Homo sapiens: one gene and its partner. The protein of the gene in region 2 interacts with the protein of the main gene of each other region in a pairwise test. Each region holds a gene or a part of one and is shown on either strand. Other genes may lie near its edges.

Region 1 (3,758 bases), on a different chromosome or scaffold from region 2:
ACCTGCCATTGTCATATGACCATATTTTAAGACTCTTATCCCAAAGTGGGAGAGTGGCCTAGTCAGATGCGTCACCCTATTCCTGATCTAATTTTTCTTATTTATTGTCTCTCTGTCTCCTCATTCTAAAAAGTTCCCTGAAAGCGGGACCCCATTGGACCTCACCTCTGTGTCCCCACTGCCTAGAACAGGCCTGGAATACAGAAGATGCTTAGTGATTTTTGAAAGACAGCATGAAAAGGGCCCTTCACCAAAACAACCTGACTTTCCAGGCCAGGATCTGAGCACTTCATTTCTCAGGAACCACTGCTTGGCACACAACACCTGGGCTGAACAGGCAGAAGTGATCCAGCCATCTTGGGCACAGGAATTCTCCTGGCGTGAGTTCCTCCTGCTTCCCAGTCCTGACTGGGCTGCTCTCCAGCTCTGGGGCAGGATTCTAAGAACCCCTCCAGGATGGTATTCAAGAACATCCAGGAGGCGAGGTCGAGATAGAGAGGGCAGCACTGTGTGTGTGTGTGTGTGTGTGTGTGTGTGTGTGTGTGTGTGTGTGATGGGGATAGGGGCAAGGAGAATAGAAGTGTGGGCAGGGCATTTCTGGTTGCCAGCCAAGATGGTGGAGAAGGGGTGGCTTTTAGAGCCTTCCCACACTGCTGTTGCTAGGAAGACGAGGCACCTGGAGGTTGTGGCTGTTTTCTCCCCCTGCAGTAGGAACACATACTGGAACAGATGTACACACAGTCAGACATGCACAGAGTAGAGAATAAAACTTGGATTTATTCAGACCGTATGCTTCCCATTTGGGGTGCAGAGTGGGGGACAGTCATGGGGACAGAGAAAGGCAGTGCATTTGGCTTCTAGGGACATGCTGATTGCTGACTCTTTGGGTGACCTTTGGGCCACCAGATGACCAGCTGAATGATGGAGATGGTGATGAAGGGGCTGGCGGCCAGGTCCTTCTGGAGACCTCACAGTGATTCCAAACAGAGACCAACGCTGTGTCCAGTTGGCTCTGTTCCTCTCCAGGGATTAAGGAGCAGATGGCTGGGAACACTCAGACTAATTAAAGAAATAAAAACTCTGGGTAGAGGGACACTCTGGGGGGCTCCAATTCAGGCAGTGGTGTGCAAATTCACACATGTCGATGCGTGGGCCAGGCCTGTGTGAAAAACATGTGTGTGTCTGTATATATTACATCCTCCACAAGCAGCTGGGAGCCCCCATCCTACCCCCACGCCTGTGCAACTCTGTGGGCCTCTTCCAGACCTTTCTTTTTCCATTTGGAAGAACTGGGCCTATTGAAAGAACTGCGAAAGGGAAATGGCCCACAGTAATCCTCTGAAGATGCCATTTCCTCTTGGTCCTTGCTCCAGTGTACAGGAGGCAGGTACCCACTTCAGTCCTGGGGCAGTGGAGGCCAGGAACAGGTGGCAGGTGTGGTGGGAGGCGGTGGGCCTCACTGGGCAGCTGGCTGGGAGTAGCTGCAGGACACCTGCACCGTCTCAGCTTCTGTCAGGTCACTGCTGAACCCAGCTGGGCTGTGCAGGAACTGCCTCAGCAAGGGGGAGGCGTGGAGCCCGAGGTGGGAGCCTGGGTTCCTGGGTGGCTCTGCCTGCTCGGTGACTGTGGTGGAAGACATGAGGACTGTGTTCCCAAACTGGTCCACCTCCTCATACTGTTCAGTCACGGTTCTCATGGCTCCATAGTGTTGTGAGCTCCCTGGCCCCGTCTGTAGCTCCAGAACACTCTTTTGCCACCCTCTGGGCAGGGGACTGGCTGAGGGAGGGGCAGGTTCAGGTTGCACAGAGCACTGGGTGATGTCCTTCTTCCCAGTTTTGTCTTGGACACCTTTCTGGTGGAGCAGGGCCTGGCCTATGTCCTGAGCCAGTTGTGTGCTTTTCACTGAGACATCAGGGTTGCCCTTAAAGCTGGGAGTCTCTAGAGGCTTCCTTGTGGCCGACTGGATGGAGATAAATGTTGGGGAGGAGGGAGAATCTCGGCTGGAAGGTAAAACCCGAGGAGGGCACAAATACTCTCTTGATGTCTCCTGCCTCCTGGTGGAAGGGGCAGTTGAGGCTGTGTGACCTCTGGCCTCTGTGTGATTTCTGATCTTGACTTGACTCTGGGCCTCAGTGTGGCATTCAACCTTGGCTTGGTTCTTGACTGCAGTTTGACCTCCGACCTCCTGGCCTGAGCCACTGGGCCTGGCGCTACTGCTGACTGTGACACTGATCTTGTGGGCACTGTGGTCTTTTGGAGGTCCCTGGAAATGGCCTCTGGCACTGGCCTCAGGCTGGAGGCTAGACATGGAGCTGAGTGCCTTGTGCACAGCCTCTTCAATGTCCAGCAGCCTTGCCAAGGTCTGTTCCTTCAGTTGAGCAACTTCCGTGCTGACCCGTGTCAGCTCCCCAAAGGCCTGCTCCACTGAGGCCTCGGGCTTTTGGTGGGCAGCAGGAGCCTGAGGAGCAGCCCCTCCCAGCTGGGGCACGGCCTCAAAGAGCCTCCGCAGGGCCTGCACGTCCACACTGCTTGCGGCCTCCTTCTCCAGGGCTTGCACCTGGTTCAGGAGGCCCTGGAGCTCTTTCTGGTTTCTTTGCAGACTGTCAGGGCTCTCAGGGGCCCCTTGGTGGGAACCTTCCATGGGCTGCTCTCCTGAGGGGCCGGGGCCCCACTGTGGTGAGGTGGGATCATGGTTGAGGGCATTGAGCTTGGGGGGCTCAGAGCTCTGGGCATTGCTGCCTGTAGCCTGATTCTTGGTGGGCCTGGGGGCCGTGGTGCTGAGGCCATGTTGTAAGCTGGGCTGGCTATGTCCACTGGGACATCTGGCCAGAGGTATGTGGCCCTGGTCTACAGTAGTGGGAACCTTGGCTGGCTGAGGGATGGCTGTATCTCTCTCACCTCGTTGGTGTTCTCTTTGCCCCACCTCCGAGGAAAAGCTGGGAGATAGAGGCAAGGGCTTGGGCAGCCTCTGAGGAGGGTGGCTCTGGGTTAGGTGTGCAGGTTTAGGGGGCAGCTGCGGCTTCTTCTTTGGGGGCATGGTGGGGTCCAGTTTTGGGGTCTTTGTCTGTGACCCTCCAGGGGTTCTCTGGCCAGCAGGGCTGCTGTGGGAGTGAAGAAGGGGGTCCTTCAGGGGCTCAGAGGCTTGCTGGATGGAGTCCTCAGCACGGTGGGCTCCAGCTGGAAAGTCAGGTCCTGTCACAGCAGCTGGGAGAGTAGGAGGAGGAGGAACAAAGGCATTATGGGGGTGCGGGCTGGCACCTGCAGCTTGGGGCCCAGAGGCCAGAATGTGGCGGCCTAGAGGGGCAGTCTTCAGGGTGGTCTCTGCAGCTTGGAGGCCCCCTGGGCAGACTTCTGCCATCGCCTTCCCTGGTGGCCCCCAGGCCATCTGTGTGCAGCCCCCAGGCTCCTCCCGCCCTGGCCCAGTACTCTGACCTGGGCCTCCCTGGAGTGGGCGGGGAGCCTGGACTGAGAGGGCAGTCTCCCTGTGCCTTGACTGGGGTTCCCTCTGAGAAAGCTGGACACCCCCAGGTGGGTCAAAGGTCCTCACGGGATGAGCGGTGTAGATGCCATCCTGAATTGTCACCCACCCCCCAGGCAGCCCTCTGGGTAGTGCTTGCTCTTCCCTACTGACCTTTCTGGGGGCTGCTGGGATCCGGGGATCACTTCCACCCCCAGGCCTTATGTTGCTTTGGGTAGCCCCAGCTTTCCGAAGACCGTCCTGGATGGGGTTGGAAGTGGCTGTTGGGGTGGGGCCCTGC
Region 2 (3,817 bases):
GAACCACGCTGATGTTTTCCAGTAACGTAAATATAGAACTTGGTACACAGGTCTGAAAAGTTTATTTAAGCAGTCTACAGTAATTCTTCGTAGGCTAATTTTGAATAAGAGCAGGAAAGAGGGTCAGCTTTTCACTTTGGAAGGTACTGGATTATTTGGCAGGTGGTTAGGTAGTACTTAGATTTGCTTAGATACCTGTAAAAGTGAGATTGGTATGGGATAAAACGTTCTTGTGCTGCTTGCAAAAGTCTTTGGAATATTCTTTGGGATATTTTGGTGCTTAGGAAGTGCTTTTCAGGTTATATTAATATATGCTTAGTCTTCATGCTTTCAAGTCCTGTGGGACGTTAATGTTAGTCTTTTAAGTTGAGTCCTTTTTGGTTATATTAAGAGGTAGTTCTGATGTTTCAAAGGCCATCCAGAAATAGGAATGCCTGAACAGGAATTTCCAATTAAGTCGGTCAGAATCCTGAACAGAGGATATGATGAATATATTACGGTATAACTATTAGTGGTATCTGTCAGATGACTTTAATTTTAGGAATAGCATGATCACTGTGTATAATCTTATACAGAAGAGAACTGAATAATAGTTTATGTTCCTGAAACGGTCATAGGCATTTGAGTAAAATGCAGTATATAGATTTACTTGTTAATATTTTGCTTAAAGATGAATATTTAAAAAATGAAAAAGCATATTACTTATACAGGACAGTGGAAAGGTTGAGACCAAAAAGCTGGTACTTTTAGTGTCCTGTCTGTTTAGTTCTATTCTTATTTTTCATTTATGCAATGTTTCAAAAGTGTAAGATGCTTTGTGATTAAAGTGTGCGTGTATGTATGTGAATGCGTTTGTATGCATGTACATACAGTGTGTGCCTTTTAAGTGCATTTTTAAAATTAGTTGGTTTGTTACTTAAGATTTTTTTTTTTTTTTAACTGAAAGAGGAGCTTGTCTGATCTAAAATAGTTGCATGTAGCCTGGTGGCTAAGGAGAGCTCAGAAGATTTTGTATTTACATTCTTGGATCCGTATTAAAATAGTCCAGGCTTCCACTAGCTACTCTGACTTTCTCATATAAAAAGGTATAGTAGGGTTATGAGGATTTGTCCAAGCCATTTACTAGCTGGGTGACCTTGAAGTAATCACATTATTTCACTGATGCCTTTTTAAAAAATATGTAAAAATAGAGATAATTCTTAACTGAGTAGTGAGGATCAAATGATAATAGAAGGTACTTTATACACTGGTAAGCCTTAAATTTATGTTACTCCTCCTGTTTCCAGGCCTATTTCTATGTTAGACTATTTGGGTAAAACTTCTGGGCAGTGGGCTCCACCTTGCGACCTTATTTAGCTCAAGGATGTCAAAAAGACCACATTTTTATTATTTTATAGGTGAGGAAGCTGTTCCCTTCTTCTGTGTTTCCTTCCTTAGGGTCTTTGAAGTATCTTTATTTGTGGTAATCATAAATTTTATATACATTTCAGAGTGTGGTACAATCAAGGGTCAGAAGATCCAGGTTTTATATGCTGACCTGTTAATTGAGTAAACTGGTAAAAAAAAAAAAAAAAAAGGAGATAATCTTATATTTCACAGGATTGTTTTGTGAAGTGTCAAGTGAGATATCCATGAAAGGATACAAATAGTAGTCTCTTTGTTCCCATGGGTCTTCATTTATACTCGTAGCTGTTGGATGTGTGACTTTCCCACAGAGGTTTATTTTAGGAGCAAGAGCCAAATCTTCATTTTTTGAATGTCAGTATTGTAGGAATTTACTAAGTGAATAAATCTTGAAGAAGAGTGTGGATTAATAGAGAAAATTCACTAAAGTTTATTCAGTATTCAAGGTGTTGGATACCTTGTTGGCCCAGTTGGATTAAGCAAAATAACTATGGAGGCACCATTTGGCTGGTATAGAAGAAATTACATACTGAATAGGTTTTGGTGATTTATCTTACAGAAGGCTTAAAACAGGTGATTGTATAACTTGTAAAATATCTAGTCTGTATCATGAGTGTAAGAAAGATTTGAAAAAATGTGATTTCAATTTTTATATGGTTGTAGGGGAGTAAAAGGGTATTTAAACCCTACTTGTGCCAACTTAAAGTTGTCTTTTCCTCTTTTTTCTCCTCCTTGTTTGAAATTGATGAATGGAATTAAGTGGAAGTAAAAGTTAGAGAATATGAGCTGAGGCTGTACTTCAGTGGATGCTTCTTCAGATAAGGGTTTACGAAATTTTCCTGACTAGAAACAAGAAGGGGACTCCTTGTCAGACCTGGGATATAGTCCTTGACTTGCCCCTAACATGCTCCCCCAACCCCCTTGTCCCCCACTATTCCTGTGTGTTCCAGTGCACTTTACATGTTTTTTTGCTATTGAATTTATTCTGTCTTATAATTATGTGGTTCTTTTTGTCCCTCTTCATTGTAAGTTCCTTGAAGAGGATTTTTATATTCATGGTACTAGCAAAATACTAGCATTTTTATATTCATGGTACTAGCAAAATACTTGGCAAATAGTGGGTGGCCTGTGTAAGTGTTTGACTTTGACTGCGTTGCTCTTTTATAGAATCTGTTCACTAGCAACCCCATTTTTGGAATACCTGTAGTGTTCTAGAAGCTCTACTGGATATTGTAGGGTGTAGTGTAGTATTTGGTGGATACTAAATGTTAATAACATAATTTAATTAAGCAAGCAAAAACTCACATCCTGACTCCAGGAATAGGTGTAGAATTTGGTTTTCTTTTGTTCTTTTTTAAATTTTAATTTAATTTTTATTTTGTAGAGATGTGGTCTTGCTATGTGGACCAGGCAGGTTTTGAACTCACCTGGCCAGAATTTATTTCTTATTCTAACACAGAGCTTGGAAGTGGCTACAAGTGTCAGGATTGTCTAAATTCTAAGCCCTTTGGAGGATACCATGTTTACTTGACTTTATGATTAAATTCTGAATTACTGAAAGGGCCATCAATCTGTTTTTAAGTCTCTTTGACCAAAGAACTTGTAAATATTTTCAAGTAACAAGCATATGCATCTCTATTGGTTTAATTTATTTTTACCCCATTTAGTGCTTGCTTTGTTTTGATTCTTTTTTTGTTTTTGTTTTTTGAGATGGAGTCTCACTCTTGCCCAGGCTGGAGTGCAGTGGCATGATCTCCACTCACTGCAGCTTCCGCCTCCTGGGTTCAAGCAATTCTCTAGCCTCAGCCTCCCGAGTAGCTGAGACTACAGGCGCGTGCCACCACGCCCAGCTAATTTTTTGTATTTTTAGTAGAGATGGGGTTTCAACATGTTAGCCAGGATGGTCTTGATCTCCTGACCTCGTGATGCGCCCACCTCAGCCTCCCAAAGTGCTGGGATTATAGGCGTGAGTCACCGCCCCCAGCCCTGCTTTGTTTTGATTCTTATCAGTGCTTCAAATACCAATCACTGGGTAGTGTATGATACTCTTGAAGTATTAGTGTGGGCTGCCATAACAAAATACCATAGACTGGGTGGCTTAAACAACAGAAAATTATTTTTTATTTTTATTTATTAATTTTTTTGAGACAGTCTCACTGTGTCGCCCAGGCTGGATTGCAGCGGCTCGATCTCAGGTTACTGCAAGCTCTGCCTCCCGGGTTCACACCATTCTCCTGCCTCAGCCTCCTGAGCAGGTGGGACCACAGGCGCCTGCCACCACGCCTGGCTAATTTTTTTGTATTTTTTAGTTGAGATGGGGTTTCACTGTGTTAGCCAGGATGGTCTTGATCTCCTGACCTCGTGGGATTACAGGTGGGAGCCACAGCGCCCGGCCTAGACATTTATTTTAAGG

The links.
Region 1: the proteins of ENAH (region 2) and XIRP1 interact in a two-hybrid assay, tested with the Homo sapiens proteins (one study listed by BioGRID).

The regions. Positions count from the first base shown.
Region 1 is NC_000003.12:39,182,458-39,186,215, forward strand, and holds the end of XIRP1 (xin actin-binding repeat-containing protein 1), read right to left. Parts: coding exon 1,457-3,758; 3' UTR 758-1,456; downstream 1-757. UniProt on the Homo sapiens protein: Protects actin filaments from depolymerization. Required for correct cardiac intercalated disk ultrastructure via maintenance of cell-cell adhesion stability, and as a result maintains cardiac organ morphology, conductance and heart beat rhythm.
Region 2 is NC_000001.11:225,646,518-225,650,334, reverse strand, and holds part of ENAH (protein enabled homolog), read left to right. Parts: intron 1-3,817. UniProt on the Homo sapiens protein: Ena/VASP proteins are actin-associated proteins involved in a range of processes dependent on cytoskeleton remodeling and cell polarity such as axon guidance and lamellipodial and filopodial dynamics in migrating cells.